5 linked regions of the Homo sapiens genome follow. The protein of the gene in region 4 purifies or fractionates together with the protein of the main gene of each other region. This does not show direct contact. Each region holds a gene or a part of one and is shown on either strand. Other genes may lie near its edges.

Evidence for each region.
Region 1: the proteins of AIFM2 (region 4) and NMT2 purify together in Homo sapiens (affinity purification with mass spectrometry; one large-scale study listed by BioGRID and IntAct). This does not show direct contact.
Region 2: the proteins of AIFM2 (region 4) and C2CD5 purify together in Homo sapiens (affinity purification with mass spectrometry; one large-scale study listed by BioGRID and IntAct). This does not show direct contact.
Region 3: the proteins of AIFM2 (region 4) and SESTD1 purify together in Homo sapiens (affinity purification with mass spectrometry; one large-scale study listed by BioGRID and IntAct). This does not show direct contact.
Region 5: the proteins of AIFM2 (region 4) and ECHDC1 purify together in Homo sapiens (affinity purification with mass spectrometry; one large-scale study listed by BioGRID and IntAct). This does not show direct contact.

The regions. Positions count from the first base shown.
Region 1 is NC_000010.11:15,133,803-15,137,864, forward strand, and holds part of NMT2 (glycylpeptide N-tetradecanoyltransferase 2), read right to left. Parts: exon of another isoform or gene 1,617-4,062; coding exon 1,472-1,616; intron 1-1,471.
Region 2 is NC_000012.12:22,541,400-22,545,917, forward strand, and holds the start of C2CD5 (C2 domain-containing protein 5), read right to left. Parts: upstream 3,144-4,518; 5' UTR 2,921-3,143; intron 2,799-2,920; exon of another isoform or gene 2,781-2,798; 5' UTR 2,752-2,780; coding exon 2,662-2,751; intron 1-2,661. UniProt on the Homo sapiens protein: Required for insulin-stimulated glucose transport and glucose transporter SLC2A4/GLUT4 translocation from intracellular glucose storage vesicle (GSV) to the plasma membrane (PM) in adipocytes.
Region 3 is NC_000002.12:179,258,026-179,262,087, forward strand, and holds part of SESTD1 (SEC14 domain and spectrin repeat-containing protein 1), read right to left. Parts: intron 1-4,062. UniProt on the Homo sapiens protein: May act as the primary docking protein directing membrane turnover and assembly of the transient receptor potential channels TRPC4 and TRPC5.
Region 4 is NC_000010.11:70,126,117-70,130,178, reverse strand, and holds part of AIFM2 (ferroptosis suppressor protein 1), read left to right. Parts: intron 1-4,062. UniProt on the Homo sapiens protein: A NAD(P)H-dependent oxidoreductase that acts as a key inhibitor of ferroptosis.
Region 5 is NC_000006.12:127,336,937-127,340,998, forward strand, and holds part of ECHDC1 (ethylmalonyl-CoA decarboxylase), read right to left. Parts: intron 1,953-4,062; exon of another isoform or gene 1,864-1,952; intron 1-1,863. UniProt on the Homo sapiens protein: Decarboxylates ethylmalonyl-CoA, a potentially toxic metabolite, to form butyryl-CoA, suggesting it might be involved in metabolite proofreading. Acts preferentially on (S)-ethylmalonyl-CoA but also has some activity on the (R)-isomer.

The sequences.
Region 1 (4,062 bases), about 55 Mb from region 4:
ATCTCAAACTCCTGGGTTCAAGTGATCCTCCCACCTCAGCCTCCCAAAGTGCTGGGATTGTAGGTGTGAGCCACCACAGCTGGCCTATTTTGCCAATTAAATGAAAGGAGAAATCCTTTGTCATCCAGTGACAAAGATGACATTACAAAACAACAGTGATTCCGAGTCTCAAGGCCTACAATGCAGCCTTATCTTACACACTGTCATAAGCAATGTAGGTTTCATTCAACAGCCTTGGGAGGTGTGTTCTTTTTACTGCATTTCCACAAACTGGGAGAGGAAAGGGCTGCGGTGACCTCTGCCCCTCCCAGCAAAACCTAAAAATAATTTCAAGGCTGGTTACTTCTCCCCATCTAAACTGCTAGCAGCGTAGTTCAGGCCATCACAATTTCTAGTGATTTCCACCAAGAAGAGTTTTCCAAGTCCTTCTCTGCAGAGCTTCCCAACATGGTAGGACTAAAACCCAGGCTCTTCCCCATGGCTGCTGCCTGCCTCGGCCCCTCTCCACACCCTCCCTGCCCCCTGCTCCCAGTGCTCTGGCCATGATGACCGGGGCAGGCCTCAGCTCAGGGCCTTCCTGGTGCCTTCCTTAGGCTTGAGGCCCTCTGGTCCTCAAGGGACGGGCCCCTTGGAATTCCCGACAGAAGCTTACGCATCACACGTCACTTTCTCCCAGCATCTGTTGCTTAACTAAAGCCTTTCTCTACCTCAGTGTGGCCGCTCCTCCCCAGCCTGGCCACCTTTTGTCCTACTTTTCCACCACTGTTTCCAGGTGTGTGCCCTGGACTATGCCTGGCATTTAATAACAGACACTCAACAGACACCTGCTCCATGAGGGACCTTCAGGGCCTGGTCCTTCCATCACAGAACCTTATATACATTTTTAATACTCTAATGGGCTAGGTGCGGTGGCTCACACCTGTAACCCAGCACTTTGGGAGGCCAAGGCAGGTGGATCACTTGAGCCCAGGAGTTCGAGACCAGCCCAAGCAACATACTGAAACAGCGTCTTTACAAAAAAATACAAAAATTAGCCAGGTGTGGTGGTGTGCACTTGTGGTCCCAGATACATGGGAGGCTGACATGGGAGGATGGATCACTTGAGCCCAGGAGGTGGAGGCTGCAGTGAGCTATGATCATGCCACTGCACTCCAGCCTGGGTGATAGAGTGAGACCCTATCTCAAAAATAATAATAATACTAGTAATGTTTCAAGTGTGGGGAAATTGGATGTTTTTATTGGGATAGAAATTGGACTAAAATAATGGTTATCAAAAGCCAATGTCACTATCTAATATTTATATTTTCAGAAGAAAAATATTAGTCTTGCATAGATTTCCAATCTGTGGTATGAAATAAATGATACATGTGAAGTTAACACTCTTTGTGTTTTGTTGTTGTTGTTGTTGTTGTTGTTGTTGTTCATCCAGCTTTGTTTGTGGGGAAAAAAAGAGAAAAGCAGAAAAACTTACCTAGTTTTGGTACCGGTTGTGTGTCCCAAAACTGGTATCTGTGCTTTGCAGCCTCATCAATGTTCCTGGCTGGGCCCTGGCATGCGGATAGCAGCTCCATTGCTCTCTGGATATCCTGCAACTTCTGCATTGGAACACTGGGATTCTACGACAGCAAAGACAGACACAGAATATGAGAGAGCGGCTGCTGATGTTAAACTTGAGCAGACGCACGTGCATCTGCCTCAGAGACTACAATACCTAAACACTAACAATCCTCCTCCAAGCCCAGTCAAGGCCATGGGCTTGTGTGTTACACATGAAAATAGAAGCAAACCCTCTGTTAAAGGTAACAACAGTTGTCTAGTTTTATTGGGGCTCTGGCAGTTTGGGGAATCTAAATTGAAGCACGCTTTGCTTCAGTTTCCCATCCATCTACAAATGGTCCCCGGCATTACTCCTCTGGGGGAGACGTGCAGTGCATGCATTACTGTCATCCAACAGCCAGGCAGCCACGAGCCTTGGGTGGGGGGCACTGTCAGAGTAAATGCTCTGCAGGAGCAACGAGGGGATGAAGGAAAGAACTTCTAGAATGGAAACACAGCAGAGAAGGGAAGGGAAGGGGAGGGGAGGGAAAGAAGAGAGAGAGAGAAAACAAAGAAAGAGAAAGAGAGAGAGAAAGAAAGAGAGAGGATCGGCAGTGGTGTCTCACGCCTATAATCCCAGCACTTTGGGAGGCCGAGGTGGGCAGATCACGTGAGGTCAGGAGTTAAGAGACCAGCCTGGCCAACACGGTGAAACCTTGTCTTTACAACAATACAAAAATTAGCCAGGCATGATGGCAGGTAATCCCAGCTACTCGGGAGGCTGAGGAGGGAGAATCGCTTGAACCTGGGAGGTGGAGGTTGCAGTGAGCTGAGATCGCGCCATTGCACTCCAGCCTGGGTGACAAGAGCAAGACTCTGTCAGGAAAGGGAAAGGGAAAGGGAAAGGAAGGGAAGGGAAGGGAAAGGGAAGGGAAGGGAAGGGAAAGGAGGGAGAGAGAGAGAAGGAGAGAGAAAGAGAAAGGGAGAGAGACAGAGAGAAAGAAAAGAAAAGAAAAAAGGAGGGAGGGAGCGAGGGAGGAAGGAAGGAAGGAAGGTAGGGGGGAGAGACAGAGAGGGAGAGGGAGGAAGGAGGAAGGAGAGGGACAGGGGGAGGAGGGAGGGAGAGAGGGAGGAAAGGAGGAAGGAAGGACAGATGGAAGGAAGGAAGGAAGGAAGGGAAATCTGAACTCAGTGCTGAACTGGGATGAAAATGATCAAGAAAAGAAATCTCTAACCATGCCCCTTCCTCCCGGCCACACCCTGCCCTTCTCCTGACCCTCCTGATCCTCCTGATCCTCTAGAGACAAACTCTCCCACCAGAAGGACAAGCAATTTCCTCTGTACTTCAGATCCTGGGCAACCATAGCCTGTCGTTCCCAGCCCAAGTGTTGGAAACTGGACTCCTTTTTAGGTAAAACATTACGTTTGAATTCTAAGGTTCCTTTCTCAAAGCCAATATTCCCGCCAGCTCTTGGAGATTCCCCAGTTCTTTTTTTTTTTTTTTTAATTCCTCAAATAACGTAATAATACATGGAACATGAGACTACTTGAAATGAGAAGACAGCGCAGAGGACTGAATATGGAAATCAATGACTTTTTTCAATATGTAAAATTACTGAGACATTGTAGAACTTTGATACCATGCAAAGAATATTCTTCGCTGTAATTCAGAAAGTGGTTAGAAGTTTCAAGAGCCCTTCGGTTTTGCTGTATGTCAACACAGGGTGGACACCATTGAAAGGTACAATCGACCCTTAGAAGTTTATAAACAGCAACTTTGGACTTCTGTTCCACTTGGAATCTGAAATCTGTGGTGTGGAGCAATAATTTTAACTTGGGAAGCTTACTCATCGTACACAGCACAGAACAGGGTTTGTTTCATACAAACACTGTCAAGAACCCTAAGGAAACGAAGTTCTGAAGTCCAGCTGGAGGCAGGTGAAAGTCTTTTTGTCTCTGCTTGGAAGTCTCACAGCACAATCCAAGATGGCCACAGTTTTTGTAAGCTGTTTATCTTACATTTGTTTAACATCAAAATCATAAAGGTCCTATCTTAATGACACATACAAATTTAACAAAATACTTTTCCGGTTCTCATTATTATATCTTTGGATGACTTCTTTTCCTTGGGTGTCTTTTAAGTCCCCAACATTAAAAGGAGCAAATTTCTAGCAAAATGAAATTCATGTGTATCTGAACTCCAACAACACCATCTATTAGAAGACCTTACAATTTAAATAGGAATTGAGATCACAGCATATTTCAACTAATAATGCTTAACTGTGCATCAGTTTAGCTTAAAATGGCAAAGTAGAGCCCAGTCTTATAAAAATAGAACTACAATGACTATAATGAATTTGTCATGGTACTTTTTCTTTCTTGATTTAATTTTTTGTTCCTTGATTTCTTTCCTGGTTTCTGAGTTAAATCTTCTAACAGTAATATATCAAACTCAAACTATTTTGCAACAGACATGAATCAGCATCTTTGTTCCACATGACCCAATGACCAAAATGACCAACTCCA
Region 2 (4,518 bases), on a different chromosome or scaffold from region 4:
ATCTTAACAAGGGCTTCTCAATGAATTTAGGGTAAAATTCAAACTCTTAATCATGGCCTTAGTCCTTGCAAGACTGGTTCTTTGATTAACTCTCCAACTTTATCTTATACTACTCTTCCCTTCACTGACTACGTGCCAGCCACACGCATTTTCCTTCACTTCTTAAAACACACCAAATCTCTACATGAGATCTCCGGGTTACCTTCTGTCCACCCACTCCCCTACACACACAAATATGCTCCCTCAGCAGCAGGCTCCTTCTCATCCAGCAGATCTTGGTTTTGACAAACACTTTTCTCAGGGGCCTCCCCTGATTACTCAACCTAAAGTAGGTGTTCCCTGTTGTTCTCTTTCTATTGTTCCCTTTCATGGCACCCATCCCAACTTGTAACTATATATTTAATAATTTATTTACCTTTTAAACATCTGTCTCTCCCACTAAAATATAAGCTGAATTAAGAGAAGGAACCAAGTCTGTCTTATTCACCATGTATATACATCGGCTAGACCAGTAACTAGCCCAGAGCCTGGCAAACGGCAGACACTCAATTTGTTCAAAGAAGGAAGTAATAAGTAACCCCTGAATCAGCCCCCTTCCTCACCAGCAAAATCCACCTAGTTATCAAGGCCTGACTATTTTAACCTAAGAAATGTCCCACAAATCTTTCTGTTCAAATCCATTCCTATTCCCATTCCCACATATTACCTGGATAATTTTACCACCTTCTTAACTGATCTCCCTGCCACACTTCCCATCTGTCTAGTCCATCAATAGCATCCCCATTCAGGCCATCCTATAAAGAAACAAACTAATACAAACATGATCTTATTTTATTTCTGCTTAAAAAACTCCCCTGGCCAGGCGTGGTGGCTCAGGCCCATAATCCCAGCACTTTGGGAGGCCGAAGCGGGAGAGGCAGGAGGATGGCTTGAGGCCAGGAGTTGGAGGCTGCAGTGACCTGCATTCAGCTTCCTTGTCGCTCCTTATAAATATTACAGAAAATGAGGTTTTATAGAAAATGGGGCTTTCCAGCCTCATCCCTAACAAGCTCCACTACCCACATATCTCATACCCTTTCCTCCAGACACGTACTAAACTAAGGCAGTTTCCTGAACATACTATATATCCCAGTCTATGCCTTTGCCTTTGATGTTCCCTTTGCCTGGTAAAATCCTGGGTGTCCTTCAAGGCCCACTTCAAATGTCACTTTCACAAGAAGCCTTTCTCAACCTTCAGAGACAGAATTCTTTCCATATTCTAATACAATACTCATCACTTTGGTGAGGCCGTATTAGCAGAGTGGTTAAGAGAACAAACTGTCAGGCTGTGGAGGTTTGCAAGCTATGTAACCTTAAGCAAATTATTTACCCTTCCTGGGCCTCAGTTACATCCACTGTAACATGGGACAATAACAATACTCCTATAGCAGGACTGTTGTGAAAACTAAGAATTTAAAAGTACTTAGTACAGATCTGGCAATTATTAAATTCAACACGTTACCTATTAGTTATTAAATAGGCTGTGTGGGTCAATGTCTGAACTACCGGAAAGCAAACACTATGTTTTAGTTATTTGTGGATTCCTATCACCTAACATCTGGCACAAGAGCACTCAAGAACTTTCTCAAATGAAGTGATTAAGAATCACCATGACAATGGGCAGGGGAGGCAGTGAACTGTAATTATTCGGTTAGAGAACATTTAGGAAACATCAGGAATATTGAGATGAAATCGAGCTATATATTATGATATATCTATCCATCAATTCTAAGCACTAATAGCCCAAATGATTGCTGCTCTAATGCTCTGGCTCATCACGCCAATTTTTATTACAATCTTTACTTGGCTTCTTTCAGACTCTGGGTTATTACCTTCCGGCCGTAGGCCTTTACTAATTTGCATGACTTTTAAACTAATCATTAGACTTAAAAAGCAATTTTGCAATTTAAGTCCATGGCAATTAAATGACTTCCTACCTCAAGGCGCTAAATTACCCTGAAACACCTCATCAGACCTACCAGCCTATACAAGAGCAGGAAGTGTTGCAGTTGTGTTTTAGAACGTGCATGGCAGATTCACAAAATGTTAGGCATGAGAGTGGATTTCCTCGCACTGTGGGACTCCAAGTGCCCATAAAGGGCTTCATGCACCTTCTTAAACATGATGTCCAGCACTCTGGCCACCCCTTCCAAGGGTGTGTGTGTGCCTGTGTGTGTGTGTGTTTCAGTGGCTGCGGGGCCACACCTTGGGATCTCCTGAGTGGCAGGTGGCCTGTTAATGAGTCCTGACATCAGAGTCATTCCGGCATTTGTGTGTGTGTGTGTGTATGTGTGTGAGTGTGTCGGTGGCTGCGCGGCCACGCCTTGGGATCTCCTGAGTGGCAGGTGGCCTGTTAATGAGTCCTGACATCAGGGTCACCCCCGCATGCACAACAGTACAAGCCTCCCCGCGCAGCGGACTGTGCCGCGGACGCCTGCAAGCCGTGCACCCATCGCACACACTGAGGTCTCGGCGGTCATCCCTCGTGGGAGAGCTGGACAACCACGGCCGAAGGGAGGGCAGTCGAGGGGGGAATAGGCTGAGGGGCTGGGGGCGAGGTGGGTAGATCCTTCACAGGGCTTGGCGCTCCCTGTGTTTTGAGGGGCAGGACCCTGCACCAACCTCCACGAAGGCATCAGTCAGGTCACTAGCACGGTCCATCACTGGCAAATGGCGCCCGGCCACGATTTTCACCTTCAGCTTCCCTGGCATGGTCTCGGTTTCGGCCTCTTCTTGGGCTCCTGCAGAAACAAACAAACGAGTCTGCGCCGAGCGCGGGGCCGGCGGGAGAGGGGCGGAGGCGCGCGGGGTAACTGACAGCGAAGGAGCGCGCGGGGGCGCGCGCGGGCGCCCGGCAGTCGCGCCACGGGTCGCCACTCACTGTCGCAGGAGGAAGGGTGCTGTCCCGCGCGGGTGCTGAGACCTCATTCCGGAGAGGCGGCGGGAGGAAGGGCTTTGATGGGTTCTTCCGTCCCGGCCCCACAAGGCTGGGACGAAAAGCAAAACCCAGTCAGCATCCCGTTGAGCCTCTGCCGCCCCTGCTTGTCTCTCCTCCCCCGCTCTCAAAAATGGCGGCTCTCGGGGCGCGGAAGAAAGCATCGATCGTTCGGCGCTCTGCCCACTTGGCGGGGCGAAACTAAACTCGCCGAGGAAAGATAAGGGGGCGGGGCTGACGTTGAGAAAGCTGGAGGGCAGGGAAATGGGCCGAGTCCTGCATCATCCACCGAGTGGGGGCTGTGGATAGGTGCGGCGCTGCTTCCCTGGAGGGAAACGCTCCATCTTGCGGGCCGAAGCGCGAGTGCTGCTCTGTGACAGCCTCCGGCCGCGGCCTTCCCAGCTGCTACCGCCGCTTTTCGGATGGGCTGTGATAGATGGAGTAGCAGCGAAGACTGCTAGAAGAGCGTTTTCAGTCGGCCTTTAGTGATTCGTAAAACCAAATTAGCTGGTTTCTACTTGGAAGGGGTACAGGTGCGTGTGGTGGTTCCAGTTTTCTGTGAAATAGAGTTAGATGGCCAGGCACAGTGGCTCACGTCTGTAATCCCAGCACTTTGGGTGGCCGAGGCGGGCGGATCACCTGAGGTCAGGAGTTCAAGACCAGCCTGGACAACATGGCGAAACCCCGTCTCTACTAAAAATACAAAAATTAGCTGGGCGTCGTGGCGAGCGCCTCTAATTCCAGCTACTCAGGAGGCTGAGGCAGGAAAATCGCTTGAACCTGCGAGGCGGAGGTTGCAGTGAGCCGAGATCACTCCTCTGTCTCCAAAAAAAGAAAAAAAAGAAAGAAAGAAATAGAGATACCAGGCACATCTCGAATAGTGAAATAAATATTTAGTGAAATATTTTATTCAGTCATAGGCACTTGTGTTGTGCACTGGGTCACAGATATTACTGTGGGCGGGGTGGGGGAGGTCACCTTGAAATCCAAAGTCTCCTCTTGAAAAAAAGTTTCTGCTGGTAGGTGTGGTGGCTCAGATTTGTAATCCCAGCACTGTGGGAGGCTGAGGTGGGAGGATCGATTGAGTCCAGGAGTTCGAGACCAGCCTCATGGAGACGAGGCAACACAGTAAGACCCCTTCTTTACAAGAAATGCAAAAATTAGCTGGGCCGGTGGCTCGTCTGTGGTCTCAGCTACCTAGGAAGCTGAGGTGGGAGAATCTGGGAGAATTGCTTGAGCCCAGGAGTTTGAGGCTGCAGTGAGCTGCCATCTCACCACTGCACCCCAACCTGGGCAACAGAGCAAAACTCTGTCTCTTAAAAAAAATTTTTTTTTAATTAAATGTCCTGCACTCTTAGATCATCTCAGTGTTCTTATTAAGCATCCACAAGCCTAAAGATAAGACCTACAGTAGTAGCAGAAGTTCAGGACTTCCTACCATGGAAAGTATAGTCAACCACAAGAAATAAACATGGAGAGCGTTAAACATCTTGAAGAATTGACCCAACTATAAATAAAGTAAGGTGTTATCTACAGGCTCAGAC
Region 3 (4,062 bases), on a different chromosome or scaffold from region 4:
GACACAAGCTTTAAGAGCTCTTTATTCTTTTACTCAGTTTCTTCCTTCATTGCCTCCCTAATCAGATTATAAACTCCTTGAAAACAGAACCATGTTTTCTAATTCTTATATATAGCTCCAAAGTATTTTGTATTCTGCAGAAAAGATGCAACGTCAGTGAGAATTTACACAGTGCAATTCAAGACTTTTCTGATAAAAATTATCTAACCTAAACTCAGTAATTCCCACTTCTACTACAAAAACATGCTAACTGAAGCCCCAATAGATAGAATTCCTAAACTTTCTAAACTATTACTGAATCACAATTCATGACCTCTCAAAAGCATTTTGTTTCATACATCCCTAGCACAAAGCATGCAAGGATACCAAATCAATATCACTGAACCTGATCAAATAAAATGAAACTCATAAGCAAAAGCTCTGGCAATACCCACTAAAGGAAAGACAATATTACTATCTTTCAAGAATATAATCAATAGGTCTTTACAAACCAATTGACAAAGGCAGGTTCATTTTCTAAATGATTCTGCAAATCTACTAGAAGGCAATTAAATTATAACGCAGATTACTTCTTTCCAAGAATGTGCAGTTTCTGCATATGCCAAGCTGCTGAAGAACTGTACTTCTCAGCTCTCACACACACATGCACACGCACGTGCATGCATGCACACACACACACACCACTATCAAACCAGCTCTGACCACTAACTTACAATTTACTTCTGTGCTTTACCTGGTCAAACTGAAAATGAAATTAGGAGTAGGTAATAAATTATTTAGATAAGGTGATTATGGGAAAATGAAGTATCATCTTAAATTACTACTCTTAAGCACTGGCATTGGGACACATTAACAATCCTCTATTTGTATTTTATTAATGGAAGTCATTAATAAATAAGTAGTCTCATCCAACACTGGCTTAGTTCATTCATACACTTAGTATTTCAGTTTATAGTAGGTTCCCCCCTTGGTATTCCCTGTACATAGGGGCATGCCCTATCATCCCAGGAGTGAATACTTGTAATGAGCCAAAGAATATTCCCAGGACTGGGGGAGTCCACCAAGTAGACCTTGGAAAATCCAATTCCTGCACCTTTGTTTCTTTATCTATTAGAAAGGGAAATGGAAATCATCTCTATCTGATAGGATTATTGGAAAGATTAAATGAGATAAGGTTGTAAAGTGCCTAGTGTTAGTTCTCTAGCTTTTTGTTTGTTTGTTTTTGAGACAGAGTCTCACTCTGTCGCCCAGGCTGGAGTGCAGTGGCGCGATCTCGGCTCACTGCAACCTCCACCTCCCGGGTTCAAGCAATTCTCTGCCTCAGCCTCCTGAGTAGCTGGGATTACAGGTGCCCCCACGACACCCGACTAATTTTTGTATTTTTAGTAGAGACGGGGTTTCACCATCTTGGCCAGGCTGGTCTTGAACTCCTGACCTCGTGATCCACCTGCCTCAGCCTCTCAAAGTGCTGGGATTACAGGTGTGAGCCACCGCACCCAGCCTTAGTTCTCTAGCTTTTTTATAGGTAAGGAAAACAGAAGGATCTAAGCACTTAGGCGACTCATCCACAGCCAATGGCTAATAAACATAGGACAGAACAAAACTTCTGACTTAGGGCTTAATGTTCTTTCCACCTCACCAAGCAGCCTTAAATTAATAGAACTCAACATCTCAGGTTTGTCACTGTTGGGTATTCACTACATGCAAAGAAAAAAAAAATTGACTATTTTGAACATCTATTACATGCTAGAAACTAATGTCTTTCTTCATAACTGCCCTATAAGTGTTATCTCATGTTACTAAGAAATTAACTTGTCCACAGTCACAAGGCTAACAAGTGACAACACAAGATTCATCCAGATCTGTTTAGTCAATGATTTTACCTACCATCCTTCTTAAAGAGTGTATTTAGATACCATTGTCTACCAGAATCAAATCCCAAATGGCCTGTGAATTTTTATAGATACTTGTGATTTATTAGTGGAAACTGTCCCTAGCTCCACCATCCTATCTACTTAAAAATTTGTTCCTATTAGGTTAAAACATAATTATAATAACTGTAGTAACAAATTTACATTTGTATAGCATGTTACAGTTCATTACATTTTTTTCATTTTTGTTAGATGCAACTACTGAGCCTTTTCATATATTAGCTCACATATCATTTAATATTTCAAGACTCTTATGAGGTAGGAGTTATTGTCATTTGACAAATAAGAAAACGGGCCAGGTGCAATGGCTCATGTTAAGAAGGCCAACGTAGGCAGATTGCTTGAGCTCAGGAGTTTGAGACCAGCCTTGGCAACATTGAGAAACTTCATCTCTACAAAAAATGCAAAAATTAGCTGGGCATGGTGGCACATGCCTGTACTCTCAGCCACCTGGGAGGCTGAGGTGGGTGAATGACTTGAGCCCAGGCAGTTGAGGTTGCAGTGAGGTGTGATCACACCACTGCACTTCAGCCTGGGCCACAGAGTGAGACCCTGTCTCAAAAGAAAAAAAAAAATTAGAAAGGTCATCTCAGATCTCTCTCTGCCCCCACAGTTGTCAGATGATTTCTAGTAAACGTTTAAAGGGCAGATATTTTAAACTGTTCCAGAGCACAGAAAAAAGTGAAAAGTTTCCTAATCATTCTTAATCCTGACTTCATCTTGACACCGAAGCCAGGCATGGATAGCAAACTTAAATGAAAACATAATATTAGATTTATCCTTTGTAATTACAGATGGAAAAGTTTAACATATTTAAGTGAAAAACAAAGGAATATGTGTAGTATAATCCCATTTGTAAAAGAAAAAACATTATGAAAAGAAACATGTCTGTATGTATGGTAAAATATGGAAATGTGTATTTATAGATAAATACACACATAAATGCAAAGATACAGGTTTGGAAATATAAACCTCAAACTGTCAACAGCAGTTTCTCCAAGATGGAAGTGGTCTTAGGAGTGAAGAAGGGGAAAAAGACAAAAAGTGAAGGGAGATTTTCAGCTTTTACTCTCTCTATATATATACACATACATACTATTCAAATTCTGAAACAGTGGGTTCTAGGATCGGCTATGCTATTAAGAAGCTGTTACTAGGTTGAATCACTCTGACTCTGTTTCCCCATTGGAAATGTGGAAAGCAGACCTACCTTATTATGACAGAAGAAAAGGAATTTATTTGAAAATGCGTAATAAAATCTGATGAATATGTGGCAGTGTTGCCACAACACCTTATGGTTTGTTATTGTTTGGTTTGATTTTTTTTATTTTTCCCTCACTTTGTCACTAATCAACCAGACATTCACAAACACAATTTAATTTCTGTATGCCTCATTGAGTGCAGGAAGTAGAGTCAGAAGACCTGAGTTTACACTCAGACCTTGCCTCTTATTAACTGTAAGGTTAAAAAAACAAGCAAATGATTAAACAACTTTGCACTTTAGTTTCCTGGCAGTAAAATAGGAATAAACCTACCTTACAGCATCATTTAAAACATTAAATGAGAAAATTATATACAAATGGCCAATAAAAACATGATAAGATGAAATACAAATGAAAATCACAATGCGATATCACTTCACAGCCACTAGGATGGCTATCATCAAAAAGACAAACATTAACAAGTGTTGGCAAGGATGTGGAGAAAATGGAACCCTCATTGCTACATTGCTATAACCCTACATTGCTAGAAGGAATGTAACCCTTCTAGCAATGTAGAAGGGTTACCCTAGAAAATGGAACCCTACATTGCTAGAAGGAATGTAAAACAGTGCAGCAGCTATGGAAAACAGTCAAGCAGTTCCTCAGAAAGTAAACAGAATTACCATATAACCCAGCAATTACACATCTAGGTATACATCCAAGAAAATTGAAAGCATATATACCATACAAAAACTTGTAAATGAGTATCCACAACATTATTTATTATGGCCAAAAAGTAGAAACAACCCAAATGCCCATCAGTTGAAGATTGGATAAACAAAATGTGGCATAGCCATATAACAAAATAATATTCTGCCATAAAAGGAATGAAATATTGATACATGGTATAATATGAATAAACCCTGAAA
Region 4 (4,062 bases):
CAGAGTCTTGCTCTGGCGCCCAGGCTAGAGTGCAGTGGCATGATCATGCCTCACTGCAACCTCGACCTCCTAGGCTCAAGCGATCCTCCCACCTCAGCCTCCTGATATCAGGGACCACAGGCATGTGCCACCATGCCTGGCTAATTTTTGTATTTTTTGTAGAGATGGGGTTTCACCATATTGCCCAGGCTGGTCTGGAACTCCGGAGCTCAAGCAATCTGCCTGCATTGGCCTCCCAAAGTGTTGGGATTAGAGGTGTGAGTCAGCCTACATCTCATTTTTTTTTTTTAAAAGATGGGGTCTCATCTAGGCTGGAGTGCAGTGGTGCAATCATAGCTCACTGTGAACTTACATCTTAAGTGGTAAATTGTATATGTGAATTCTATTTTGATTAAAAAATTAGATGGTAAGCGGTCTGTCCTATTATTAAAGACATTATTTCTGCAAAAATGACATATGCTTGTTTGAAAAAAATTCAAACAATACAAAAGCTTAAGGAAGAAAATGAAAACATTATCTATGACCACTATTAGCACTTTGGTTCAGACAGCAGGTTTGATGTGTTGAGAATTGAACTTGGGCAAGTTGTTGAACTTTTTTCCAAAATAAGGAGAAAAAACTCATACCTTAAATCGAAGATATGGGCAAAAGTGCAACAGATGCTAACTGCTGTAATCATTACCTGTATATGTGTATACATACCGAGGTGGATGTGTCTTATTGGCCATAAATGGGATTAGATCTTTCATGTGGTTCTGTGGCCTGACTTTTTGGGACTGGGCAAACTAATCTGCAACATATATTTTATATATATATATATAAAACGTGGCTGCTGTGTATTCATTGCTACTCTGTGCCAGGCACCATGCTAAAATGCTTTACGTAAATGATCTCATTGAATCTTTTCTACAGCTCGAAATCACAGTGGCTTACCCCTGTAATTCCAGTGCTTCGGGAGGCTAAGGCAGGAGGATCCCTTGAGGGGCTAGGAGTTCAAGATCAGCCTAGGCAACATAGTGAGACCCTCATCTCTACAAAAAAAAAAAAAAAAATTAGCCAGCTCAGGAGTTCAAGGTTATAATGAGTTATGATCATGCCACTGCATTCTGGCCTGGGTGATAGAGCAAGACCCTGTCCCTAAGAAAATTAAAAATAAGTAAATAAATAAATAAATATTGCCTGACTTTTTCTTTTCTTTTTTTTACTTTTGAGACAGGGTCTCACATTGTTGCCCAGGCCGAAGTGCAGTGGTATGAAGCACTGATCCATGCTACAACTTGGATGAACCTTGAAAACATGTTTTGTGTAAATCAGATTGTGTATGTGTGTCTTTGTGTGTGTGTGTTGTGGGAGGGAGCAAAGGTAAAGTTACTCACTGCAGCCTCAAACTCCTGGGCTCAAGCAGTCCTCCTGCCTTTGCCTCCTGAAGTGCTAGGATTATAGGCAGGAGCCACCACACCCAGCCCTTGCCTGACTTTTTCATGGACAGACTTTTTGTATAAAAACGTCATTCACAGGCTGGGCACAGTGGCTCGCACCTATAATCCCAGCACTTTGGGAGGTCGAGGCAGGCCGATCACTTGAGGTCAGGAGTTCGAGACCAGCCTGGCCGACACGGCGAAACCCTGACTCTACTAAAAATACAAAAAACAATTAGCCGGGCATGATGGCACATGCCTGTAGTTCCAGCTACCTGGGAGGCTGAGGCAGGAGAATTGCTTGAACTCAGGAGGCAGATGTTGCAGTCAGTGAGCTGAAATTGAGCCACTGTACTCCAGCCTGTGCAATAGAGTGAGACTCCATCTCAAAAACAAAACAAAACATCACTCACCCTTTAAAAACAACTGGCTACACAGTACTGCATTGTATGGGTTTATAATATTTTATCCTGTAGCCTCTCATTGGTGGCAGTTTCCATTGATTGATGGAGTGTCACACAGGTGGAGGTTTGCACAGCACTACTGCTATGTTAGAACATACAACTGGGCATCCACTAATTCCATACGTGCATTTTCATCTCCTACAGGGTGTGTGGCTGGAAATGCAGCTCCATGGCTTAAGCCCTTGCTTTAGGTGTCTGGCCAAGTAGATCATGGCCAAGCAGAGGGGAGTTCACTGTTTTCTGGGGCCAGGCAAGAACCGACACTGGCAGAGCCAAAGAGAGTCGGCATGTCCAAGAGTATTGGGCAAGGGGCTGCCAAAGAGGCAGGGTGAAATCTGCTGGAGAGTCACTGGCCTCCCTATTCCACAAGTAAGCGTGGCAGGGGTCAGTAGAGGAGAGAGAAGAGAGAGAGAGCAGATTGCAGGAGAGGCCTCAGGCAGCCTGAAGAGGAAAAGTGCCTCCCCTCCCTGGCCCTGCTCTGGTCTGGGTGTCCCCTCAGGCCCCAGGCCCTTCACAGGGAACCCCAGATAAGCAATTTGCCTTCCTTGGGTGAGGCAAGAGTTTGCCCTTTCGGGGAAGCAGGTTGATGATACTAGGGGCCTGGGGGTCAAGGGCTTGGCTCCTTTGGTCAACTCATTGCCCCTGAGGTCCACTCTGGGGTCACTAGACTTTCTTTCCCTGGAGGAAACCCCATGAAGGGCCCGGAGCAGGCTTGTATGTCCACCTGATTGTCAAAGCTGCCCTGGCATGGCAGGCTGTCTGTCTGTCGGCCCCTGTCACCTGTCCTCTAAGCCTCTCCACCTTCTGCCACAGGTGCCCTGAACTCTACCTGCCTCCTCCCTTCCTGCCACTGGGCCTCTGGCCCAAGTTGTTTCCTCTGCTAGGAAGGCCCCCTGATCTCAGCTCTTTTTCAGGGCTCTAGGCTGTCCTTTTTGAGTGTCCCTGGGTGCTCCAGTGTGACCTGACGCACAGTGGACTCCCCTGTCCCTATCCCCGGCCAGCTGCGTAGCCCCTCTCAGGGGCCATGCCCAGCTAACTTGGAAGTGGGGCTTTCTGGGTGTTTTCTTGACCTCATCCCTGGCTGACAGCCCCAAGGGTAAGACCCAGCACAGAGGGTTGCACGCTGCCAGGGGCTGGTGAAACACACGCCACCCACGGCCTGCCTCATCACTGCCTACATTCTCAGGCCCTGCGCAGCTCCTGGTGTGCACTGCTACCTCTGGCTGGGCCTGTGGGCCCTCCTGGGTCCTGGTCCCTAGGAGACATTCCCTTCTGGCCCAGTTGGCAGATTCAGCCTGAGGTACGCTTGGGATTAGCTCTAGACAACCCTTCTGAGGGCTTAGAGGAGCCAGGGTGGCCCTGCCTGCCGGGGGGTTGTCTTGGGTCCTAATCTCTACGAGGGCTCAGCCTCCTCATCTGTGAAATGGGTATGTTCAAGCCTCAATGCTTTGGGGACCATTTGACCCACGAGAAACAACTTTAAATTCCCTCCAATCCATTGTGTCAGTGCCCTCCGTCCGCTCTACTGTCCGCCCCCAGGGGAGAAGTTAGGCAGTGGGCATTTGAACACCAATGGGAACAGTGCCCGGAGTTCTAACCAAAAGCTGCCCCATAAGTGTGGGATGATTTGGGGACCGTCTTGGGGAACCACCACCATGTCTTGGAAACCAGTGTGTACGAGGACAGCTCAGGATATTATAGCTGGTTGGGCCTTATAGTCCCCTCCCATTATAGGGGGTAAATTGAGGCCTAGAGAGGGAAGGGGTTGTGCCCCAGACCCGCAAAGATGATCAGGGCAGTGCAGTGGCCTTCCAGCGGCCTGAGGGTCCCAGATGAGCTGGAACACACTTCCTTATGAGGCTGTTCAGTGGCTTGATGTCTATCCTTCAAGGTTGACCTCAGAGTCTACTTCCTCCTTCGCTGACACCCGCTCCAGTCCCCCTTCCTGAAGCCCACAGCAGCTGTTGAGCCTCTGGGGCTGCTTTCTGTATAGTGTGAGTTTTGTTTCTTTTTCTCAGCATCTCCCCCCAGCAGCCTGGCTTATTTCTGCCTCTCTTTAGGGCTCAGCACAGGCCAGGAGGAGGGTTGATTGCTTGTCACCTCTCAGGGTCTCAGCTGCAGTCAAGAGTGCCCCTCAATGGGCTGTGCGGCTCCTCCCACACCAGCAGCCCTCTGCCTGC
Region 5 (4,062 bases), on a different chromosome or scaffold from region 4:
TGGGGCTTGAAACAAATTGGTTAACCACACTGAGGACTAAGCTCTGATTTTTTAATCTTGCCCAAATTCCCACCTAAGGGGTCTGGGGAGTCATGCCCTACAAACCATAAATTCTCATCAGATGGGTTTTATTTAACCCTGTATATTGTGACTTACTTTTCAATCTGACTCTGGCATAACATTCTAAGACAAGAAGAAAATATTTAATTCCTAAATACATTTCCTTGCCATACCCTGAAATTGCCCTGCGAAGTTTCTTGTGGGAAAAATCCACATTCTACAGAGCCTCCCCTTCCCGCTTTGTTTTCCTTCCTTTCTTTCCAGATCCAGGAGATAATCAACTAAGAGCCAAGCACCCTTCTAGGTCTGATAAGAAACATTTTACAACCTGCTCTCTCTGAAGTCTGCTGAGAGATTCCTCTGCACAAAAAAACTTGGTCTCCACAATCCTTTATCTTTAACCTGAACATTCCTTTCTATGGATCCCAGGTCTTTAGACAAACTCAACCAAATGTCAACCAGAAAGTTTAAATTTACCTATACCCTGGAAGCACCCCCGCTTTAAGTTGTCCCTCCTTTCTGAACCAAACCAATGTATTTCTTAAATGTATTTGATTGATGTTTCATGCCTTCCTAAAATATGTAAAACCAAGTTGTACCCCAGCCACCTTGGGCACATGTTCTCAGGACCTGAGGGCTGTGTCACAGGCCATGGTCACTCATATTTGGCTCAGAATAAATCTCTTAAAATATTTTACAGAGTTTGACTGTTCGCATCAACAACACCTATATTCTCATGACAGGATGTATTTATGTTTGTAATCTCCATTCATAATCATAACCCTCCCATACTCAACCATTATTCTTTCTGTTTCACCTCCCCTTTCACTACCCTTAGACCGAAGTTCAGTGGTCAAAGTCTATGAGAAAAATAGGAAATATACCAAAATATATCATTCAAAATGAATTCTGAAGCTTTCTTTACTTTTTTAAAGGCAAATTTTTAAAAACATAGTAACTGGATTAGCAATTAAGACAAATATTTTCAAACAGGATGGTATTCTTCACTGGATTATTTAAAGTAGGTAAGTAGATATTTAGCTGCATTCTCAGAAATAAAAACAGTTATTAGTTTCTTGGCATATGGACCATTAAATTTACATTTATATGTAGACTTTTCTGGCCAAGAAATGGGATCCAAGTGTATAGACATATATGCATATGTTAAGAGCATTTGGTAAGAGGTAGTTCTGTAGCAATTCAATGGCTATTTACTGAATTCCTATTAGTGATCACCCCATTGTTAGCGATTTCAGAGAGAAAGCATCTTTAAAAGTTTTCAGTTTTGTCAGAGAAACAAAATATGCACACATAAAGCAAAAATAACTCAAATATCTAATTGAAAATAGAGCAAAGTATCTCCTTTTATTGAGCTCTACTAGAGAGTTCCATTAAATTTAATGTATAATCTTAACTTCATAAAAGGATATCTTTTTTTTTTCCACCAGTAAACCTTTATCATGTAGTCTAAGGATTTTCTTTAGGTATAAATGAATCCAATAACATTAAATCAGTGCATGGAATTATGATGCTTTATTGCCCTTCTTTCTAATTTTTAAAATTCTAAGCAGAAGCACAACCAAAATCAAGCAACATACCAGCTCTGCTAGGGAGTAAAGTAAATATCAAATGTATATACTCACATACATATATATAAAACCAGAATTATCCTACATATGTGTAACCAGAATTTTTATGGTTATGAAACAGTGCAATACTAGTGTTTCACAGCTATATATTACTTCTATAACAAATGACTTTTGTTCACTGAGTTGAAATTTATGTTACATTGCATTTGGCCAGAAAGAAAAGAAACACAGATGTGATGAATGAAGAAAAATACCAGTTGAGTCACCTAACCAGTACTGAAAAAGTTAAGTTTCAAAATACGGGTATGTTCTATTTCTTAACCTAGATAATGCATCCACAGTTATTTCTTTTGTTGTTGTTCTTTAAATTCATCTTATACATTTTACTCTCTAGGTATGTGTGCTACATTTACTTCTCAGGAAACTTTTTCTTTTTAAATAGAAGAGTATCATTCCAAATATTGACAGATGTCCTGTTCAGGAATTCCTTCCAATCTCCTAAACTGCCAGTTGCAAAACTAGTTTCTTCAGACCTCTACTTTACATATTGCATCAGTAGCCACTAACAATAATTACAGCCTATAGATATCTGAAATTTCTTTGTTGACAAGTCTGGCAGCTAAGCAAAGGTCCTTATTAAAGGTAATGATATTTCTTAAAAAATCATGCACAACCAGAAAACATAACAGAAAGGTACATACGAGATAAGCTGTAGCATTTTAGGGGTGATCAGGACAGGGACTGCATCTTACAGCTCTTAACGCAGAATTTTACATTAAATTTTTGTGGAACTAAATGACACATAATGTGGTTATTACTATATAGGTATTATGGTACCTAGTCATCATTTTCTAAACTAAAGATAATATCTATATTTACAAAATAAGAAAAAAAGAACTATTTCAGGCCAGGTACGGTGGCTTATGCCTGTAATCCCAGCACTCTAGGAGACCAAAGTGGGCAGATCGCCTGAGGTCAGGAGTTTGAGACCAGCCTGGCCAACATGGCGAAACCCCATCTCTACTAAAAATACAAAAATCAGCCAGGTGTAGTGGCACACACCTCTAATCCTAGTTACTCAGGAGGCTGAGGCAGGAGAATAACTTGAACCCAGGAAACGGAAATTGCAGTGAGCCAAGATCACACCACTGCACTCCAGCCATGGTGACAGAGCGAGAGACTCTGTCTCAAAAAAAAAAAAAAAGAAAGAAAGAAAAAGAAAAAAGAACTATTTCACTGTTGGGGTTTTTAAAAAATGCAAACCCAGGGGGTGTGGCTACAAGTGAGGGTATCATAGTCAGCCAAATAAATAAATAATCTTTCACTGGCCTCTGGTCAGCTTGCCAAAGAGCCACACCTTCTCCATCACTCCTAGCTGAGGAATCTCTGCTCCTCTTCAGAAAGGGAAGGCAAGAGCTCCTTGTCTGGTTTTATTCATATTTACAAAATGGGTTTATATGCAACATAATCTCTATTGGATCACTAATAAAAATATTGACACTTTTTAAGAAATGAGGTTAATAGACAATACAAAGTCATTCTACATATCTACATATAATACATATCGTATAAGGGTCTAGTTAGTAGTATTCTTCCTACTTTAACTATTTGAACAGATTTTCTCACAAGACTGTTAGGTGTGAGTTAAGGATAACCTGATGCATTTTCTATAACTTTCTCAGAATGAGAGGCAATTTACCCAGTAGGTATTGAGATAAGACTTGACTCACTGTGTCCTTCCCTTCTTCATTCTATTTACTGAGGATGAAGGGAACTTGCTTTCTCCCTCTCTCCCTTTCTCCCTCCTCTCTCCTCTCTGCAACCTAGGGCTGCCTTCAATTTGGGAAGTGTCCCATTCTAAGAAGGCCAAATAGCCTAGAGCTCAGGGTTCCTTAGGAATGCTTCTAGTCTAGGGAAAATAAGCTGTCAAGGTCATGTACCAGTTCAGCTAATAAACCTGGGAGGCCTACATATTCAGAGCCAAACATAGCATGCCTAGGGTCTTGCTTTTGCCTAGAATATGCCGTTAATCAGGTATGAAGATACAACCCAATGAAGCAGATACATGTGGGGCAGAGGCCCCAATTTCCACCTTGATAACTTTAGAATAAAAGTGCTAAAGAAACTTGGTAAGGACTTAGATAGTTGCTTTAAAAGTTTTTTTTTTTTTTGCCTGTCTGCCATAATCCTCTGTTTAGAGGAAGAAACAAGGAGTTAATCTAGAAAATAAGGAGGAGGGACTTATAAAAGCATTAGCATTTTGTGGGAAAGTAGAATCAGTAAACAACATATCTTCTGCTCTCATTGTAAAGGGTCTGTCTGCTCTGTCTTGATACATTACCCCTCTCTCCAACATCAACACTACAGCAATTAGTATGAACGCCATCAGATCTATATCCTTTTATCCTCAAAT